Linked DNA regions of Homo sapiens. The protein of the gene in region 1 purifies or fractionates together with the protein of each later gene. This does not show direct contact. Each region holds a gene or a part of one and is shown on either strand. Other genes may lie near its edges.

Region 1 (3,654 bases):
AAGGATGCATCCTTAAATTTAAGACACACCTTTTTATTTTGCACATTTGCATTAACGTGATTCCCCTCTGGGGAAGTTTTGAGCATTTACCATGAATACTATTTGATACTAAGCACACAACTAGCTCACTATGCATCAGCCCATACTACTTTGCCTAATGGGAATTCAGAGGGGATTTCTTCTGTGATAAATGGGAAGTTCTAAGCAGTCAAGTTTGCCCCTGAATTGAAACTGCTGAAGGGAAGATGTAAAATTCACAAAAATCCAAGGTTAGAATTTAATAATAATAATTCCTTATTATCATTAAGACAAAAAAAGAACGAGCTCATGTTGTCTGACCGCTGATCTGCCCCTTAGTTGTTAGAGGTTTGTGGACCTCTTCTACAAGGCTTTGTGCCTGAGAGTAGTAACAGTGGGAGGCAAATGTCCCAGAGACGTAGAGTGAAATAAATTGCAGTCCTCCTGTTAAAAAAAAAAAAAATCTCAACGTCAAGGAAGGAATGAAAACAGCTCTGGGGCTGGATGCAAATATGTAGCTGGCAGTAAATCTGTACCTTAGGAAAAGTAATTTGGAATATCCAAATCAAGGGCCAGCTCACCAAAACAACCGGACTAAGAGAGGTGATGAAAAGGCAATGAATATAGAAACTAAACTCCAATGGACAAGTCAGAGGATGTGTGTATGTATGAGGGTCTAACTATAAATTATCACAAAATTATCACATAAAGCAACAATAAAAGAAAAAAATTTTTTTTTTTTTGGAGACAGAGTCTCACTCTTTCACCCAGGCTGGAGTGCGGTGGCGCGATCTAGGCTCACTGCAAGCTCTGCCTCCCAGGTTCAAGTGATTCTCCTGCCTCAGCCTCCCTAGTAGCTGGGACTACAGGTGCCCGCCACCACACCCGGCTAACTTTTTGTATTTTTAGTAGAGACAGGGTTTCAGCATGTTAGCCAGGATGGTCTCGATCTCCTGACCTTGTGATCCACCCGTCTCGGCCTCCCAAAGTGCTGGGATTACAGGCGTGAGCCACCGTGCCCGGCCAAGAAAATTATTAATATCACTTTCGTGTCCATAGTTTTAGGAGTTATTACCACAGAACACTATCTTTTTAAAGTTGTTTTAGAAATAAACTTAGATGAGTAAACCTAAAGCTTCAGTACAGTCATGTGTTGCTTAACAATGGGGACACATTCTGAGAAATGCATCATTGGGCATCCTTGTGCAGACATCAGTGTCCTCACATAAACCAAGATGGCAATAGCCTACAACACCCCTAGGCTATATGGGATAGCCTACTGTTCCAAGGCAACAAACTTATACAGCGTGTGACGGTACTGAATGCCGTGGGCAACTGTAATACAATGGTAAGAATCTGTGCATCTAAATATAGAAAAGGTACAAAAAAATATGGTATCATAATCTTTTGGGACCACCATCATATATGCAGTCTGTGGTTGACCGAAACGTCCTTGTGTGACATATGGCTGTATTTGTCTTTGGATTATCTCGTCTGATCCCATTCCATTCCAATTCTGGTTAGTATAATATAGCAAGTATTAATGAAAATGATTCAGAACCAAATATCCAGGCTTTTTATGTGTATTTTTTTGGTATTGAGGGGTTTTGAAATATAGACAGAGGTTTTACAACTTTTAAAAGAAAATTTTTTTAAAACTTTTATTAGCAAATAATTAGCTAAAAACTGAAGCTTCCCTTTCAAACAGGCTATTGTTAATAAACTGTTCCTCTGCCATGTTTTTGTTGGTGAGAGAGGCAGGCAAAAGAGTGGGATGGGGGCAAGGCAGAAGGCCTTCATGCATTTCAATAATTAAGTCTAAACAGTTACCTCTAAGAACTGTTTTAAAAAAAACATTTTTAGTTGATAATAATTTTAGTTAAATGCTTGGGAATTTGATGTCTTTGAGAGGAAGAAAAATGAGGAAGTACCCTCTACACAGTCATAAGAAAAGATCTAGAGAGGCCTGCTCAAATGAGGCAGATTTTTTTTTCTCAATCCAACAACAAACCCATATGATAACTGAAAAGAAAATCCTGAAGAAAATGGTCGCATGTTGCTTTGGAAAAAACAATGTCAAATGACAGAAGATTGCAGAAACAAGAAAGCAGAGTAGCAGTTATTGCTTTAATTTGTGTATTCCTGTTTTAAGGCAAAATGTTAATACGGCCCTCGTCCTCACACCACCCTGCGCTCTTCTCCAAACTCGCCCAACAGCTTGCATTACCATCAAGAAGGTCAGAGAACAGTTCCTCTAATACTCTCCAACTTCATCCATAACTCTTGGAAACTTCAGCCTCCCTTCTCAGCAAGGACAAAAGAAGCAGAGCAAAAAAGGCCAGTTCATTCCATTAATACACAGACCAAATCCTATTACGACAGACAGATTCCTATCTCTACCCTCACCATCTCTTTCCCTTCCCCCAAATAAACAAGTCCTCAAAGCTATCAGCATTCAGCTCATCTCTAGGATGTGAACTACCTTCACTGAGGTTGGATTTGACCAAGACGCCATAGTTTGTGCCAGTTACCACACTGCTAAGCTGTTAAGGATGTTAGGGTTATAGGTGAATATTGAGGCTTTCTTTTTAATCAGCAGCCATTGTGAATTAAGTGTTCCTCTTCAATGATTTTTTTCTGCTGGTGGGGACCTCCACAAAACTTACCCAGCACCCCTAGCAAGACATTCCAGTCATAAGCTGAGGAATATTCTTCTTAGACATAGGGGAGAATAGGCTGATGTCTTAGGATTCATAATCCATTTTCATATAGTTCCGTGACCTTACTTTTGTCCTGACAAAATTATTCTGCCTGAACATCTGAGAGGGATCTAAATCCTAGGGCTTACCCTCTCCTAGGCAATGCTCAGTGAGAAATGCAATGAGGTGGCAGACACCTGTCCTTATGCAACACACAAGGAGCATGTGAACCTTTTAATGGATGACAACTTAATAAACCTATTAAGCCTTTTCTGAGCTTATCCTCACACTTAAGAGGCACCTGGGAATCTGCAGCAAATACACAGGGGTTTCATTTCGGGCTTTGTTTACAACAACCAAGTTAAGCAGTGGTTGGTGTTTAACCATTTCAAGGTTTGGGAAGCCCTGAGATTAACTGAAATTATTTCCAAAAATCTACAAACCCATGAAATGTTTAAAAAAACAACAAAAAAAAAACACTACTTAATCCCTAGAGCAAAACCAAGGACATAAAATGGTCTCTGAAACCAAGTTACTTTATATATTTAACAAAGTACTGGGTGGGCGTGGCATAACTTGATTTTAAACTGGAGATTTGTTTTTTCAAGCAATCTGGTGGTTCTTTAGAATACTGCTTTCCTAGTACCAAATTTGTGCAATATTAAATGATTCCTCCAGTACAATCTATCTTATTTGTTCAAATGACACCATCAGCTATGAAACTATCTGTGAATTTTGCCTCTATTCTCATAGGCATCATATCACTCAGCACTATGTTTTAAAGGAAGAAAGGTAATACTATCTGCTTTCTAATTGATTAATAGTTACAGCTGAGAACAGACCCCATACAATCTCATCCTTAACCATGTGTTTGGGGAAAGAAGAGGAAAATTAAGCTGTGAGATAAAGCCAAAAATCAAGAAAAACTTAAAATACT
Region 2 (3,654 bases), on another chromosome or scaffold:
GGAGGGAGGTGGGAAGAAAGAAGATGGGCTAGGGGCATGGGAGCACAGAGACAAGGTCAGGAAGGCTCACTGAGCTTATGTGCTAAGTGCCCAAACTGGTGGGGAGGGTGGAGGCAGGAGAAGCATTCAAGCACCTGAGGGGCCAGGGAGCTGGAAAATCATTTCTGATCATTAAAGGTGAAGAGAGGGTTCCACTATCACTAAAAAGTGCCAGACATCATGTCCTTCCAAAAGGCATACAGATACACCTGCAAAATCTAACTTGACTCTGCGCCTCTAGATCTGCCCTGCCCAACAAGAAGGCCATATGGTACTACTGAGCAACTGAAATGTGGCAAGCGCAACTCAGGAACAAAATTTTTAATGTTATTTCATTTTAATTAATTTGAATTTTATAATGGATACTCGATCCAGTTACTGAGAAACTTTTTATTGTCTGGAATAACTTGGCTATGTGAAACTACTTTTTCAACTGTACATTTTATGAAATCTAAATACAGATCAAGTGCTTTTGAGGAGAAATGGTCTGAAAATGGCAGTGAGGCATGACAAGGACACCCTGCCTACCTCCAGGCTGAGTGACAGTAGGGATGTGGAAGAGAGGCAGGGACCACTTTAGACAGCTGCAGGGCAAGTTGAGTCCCAGGTTTAAAGCAAGAAGGCGTGGAGAAAGAAGAGACAAGGGCACTGGGGTGGAGGTTGGAGTGTCATGTGATGACAGGCTGTGAATTAGAGGGCACAGTACAAGGGTCTTTGGGAGGAAGTACGGGAGAAGCAGGCACATCTCTTTGTCTCCAGTGCTGCCAAATTTCAAAATACTGGCCTGAGTTTATTGCATCCATTGAATACTGTGCAGGGCATTTCTGTAACCAGGAAACTCATTTCTTTCAGTTTTGGTAATTTTCTATTACTTTGTTGTTTTTTTTTTTTTTTTTTTTTTTAAACATTTATCTATGTATTCAGAATCACACACAAGTTACCTTTACAGTTCAATTTACTATATAGAAATCATTGGGTTTTATATTTGCAGTTAACTTTTGAACTGAGATTACAATATTATAACAAACTCCTTACTTTGTAATCCCTGTTCCTTTTCTCTGATCTCTCTTGTTGAAACCCATTACCTGGAGGCTGGATTTCCTGACCTGGTTCTTTTTATTGTTGTTTTAAATTTTCTCCTATCGTTTTCTCCAATTTTCTTGTCTTTTTGTTCCACGTTTGAGATTTCTTCAATTTTATCTTCCAACTCTTCTACTGATCTTTCAATTTCTGCTATCTTATTTCAGGACCGGTTCTTTTCTCCTCTGAATGTTCTTTTTGCATAGCACTGTGTTACTGTTTTGTGGATGCAACCTTTTCTTTTGTCTTTCTGAAGGCATCACGGATACTGTTTGCTTATCCTTGCTCATTTGTTTTGTGTTTTATTCTCCCTGCCAGGCCTCTACATCTTCCAAGGTGCTTTGGGCATGTATTTATTGTGGTTTCTGTCTTCCACCGTTAGAGGTCCCCTCAGATATGTGCCTATCTTTGGTTGTATGTTCATGATTAAGAGTCGGGGAGAGGGACTGAAATGCTGGCTGGGAGCTCTGAGCTTTGGAAGGGCATGTCTACTATGAGGTCCACTGTAGGGTAATCTAACCCTGTCCTTAAGGAAGCCCTAGTGTCAGTATCTTTAGAGCTTCCCCTTGGGCTGGATAGACTCCCCAGAAGGAAAGTAGAGTCCTCTTCTCATTTTCTATCTAGAATCAAGTTCACCTGCCAGAGTTCTATCAGCTGAAAGCAGGGAGTGGACTGGGAAGTGTTCAGCACTCCACACACACACGGTGAGTCACAATCTCTTTCTGGTAAAATACTCATGACCTCTATAGTGCTGGGTGACCCTAGCGGACCATCTGCAGAGTTTGAACTTTCAGGCTCCTGCTAAAGTCGGGAAGGGGCAGTACACCACATGGCATAGGTAGAAAATGGGATTCTGGGCTCTAACTTTAACACTTTTCAAACTCAAAGGTTTTAACTTATCCTCCTTAAAGGACAGAGCCCCTTCCTTCGCCCCCAGGATTTGCCTGTTGTTGGTCCTTTTGAAGATTTTCCAATTTTAAAAGAGGATGGTTCTCAACTTTCCCCTACGCAAGCTTCACATTTAGCTTTCTCAGAGCCAGGACGCCATCGCGTGATGGTCTGCTTCCCAGCTTCAGTTGCTACTGTGTCCTCTCCTGTTCTCCCCATCCTTGTGTGTTTACAACTTTTTTGAAAAAAAGTTATATAGGGTTATGAGACAGAAAGATTTTAGATGTGTGTAATCAATCTGTCATCTTAACCACAAGCTTTGCCTTGTGTTTTTACTAATAAGGTAACTTTGTCATGGACTGACTTATCCTTTAAAAAAGTACAAAGTATTCATAAACAGCAAAGATAGGGACTCTGGTATATGCACAGCTCTGTGCAAATAAAAACCCTGCATGGACCCTAGTCCCAGCAATTTAAGTTTGCACTTGCTTTAATCTTTTGATGTTGATGCTATTAGCTCAGCTGAGCCACAGAAACTCTGCTCTCTGAAACATGTCTGCTCATCTCCCACCTCCAGAATGTTTAACTCAAACAGCACAGCACATACCTTCCTGCCTATGATCCACCAACTGAGAAGCTTACATGGCAACACAAAACACTATCTGCTACCAAATATGACCCTTACTACACTTCAGAATTTGTTTGCCCACAGTGACATAGAAGGGGAGTAGGGAAGTGCTGGGAAGGGGCGGGTCCCTGGTGAGGGCTCCACCCCCAGCCTGTGCCCACGGATCTAGGTGAGGACAGGCATTTTTGTTTTCCTGCCCAAATGTTGCATTTCCCCCAGACCACCCTGGCCTGCTACGCCCTGATCCTGTGCCTGTAAAAACCTCCGAGACCCTAGCAGACAGGCACACAAGTGGCTGGACGTCAAGAGGAACGCATTGGCAAAAGACACAAGCAGCTGGACGGCGAGAGGACAGCAAGGGGAGCATGCCGGTGGAAGAGCACATGACAGACGCTGGCATGCCAGCAGGCCCCCGACCAGCAGAACGACGCAGTTTGGCCAGGGCAGTCAAGAGAGCTGGGGCCGCTCCATCTCCCTTCTGGCTTCCCCCATCTGCTGAGAGCTACTTCTACTCAGTAAAACCCTACACTCATTCTCCAAGCCCACGTGTGATCCCATTCTTCCAGTACACCAAGGCAAGAACCCTGGGATACAGAAAGCTCTCTGTCCTTGCCATAAGGCAGGGGTCTAATTGAGCTGGTTAATGCAAGCCATCTATGGATGGCTAAACTAAAAGAGCACTCTGTAACACATGCCCACTGGGGTTTCAGCTGTAAACATTCACCTCTAGACACTGCTGTAGGGTTGGAGCGACACAGCCTGCCTGTCTGTATGCTCCCCTAGAGGTTTGAGTAGCAGGGCAATGAAGAAGCGAGCCACTCCCACTGTTGCACGCCCTGCGAGGGGGACAAGGGAACTTTTCCCGTTTCAACAGCAACGATTCATGCTGAATGAAGTTTATAGTATGAGTTAAGGTAACTACCTACACAAGCCCAAGAGTTACTTATAAACTACTTTAAAAGTTCTATGATTGAAGTTCCAGAACTAGAGAGAATTAAAGCAGTATGCAACAGATGCTT

Evidence for each region.
Region 2: the proteins of SINHCAF (region 1) and SAP130 purify together in Homo sapiens (affinity purification with mass spectrometry; 4 studies listed by BioGRID and IntAct, with this or other methods). This does not show direct contact.

What each region holds. Positions count from the first base shown.
Region 1 is NC_000012.12:31,298,573-31,302,226, forward strand, and holds part of SINHCAF (SIN3-HDAC complex-associated factor), read right to left. Parts: intron 1-3,654. UniProt on the Homo sapiens protein: Subunit of the Sin3 deacetylase complex (Sin3/HDAC), this subunit is important for the repression of genes encoding components of the TGF-beta signaling pathway.
Region 2 is NC_000002.12:127,982,906-127,986,559, forward strand, and holds part of SAP130 (histone deacetylase complex subunit SAP130), read right to left. Parts: intron 1-3,654. UniProt on the Homo sapiens protein: Acts as a transcriptional repressor. May function in the assembly and/or enzymatic activity of the mSin3A corepressor complex or in mediating interactions between the complex and other regulatory complexes.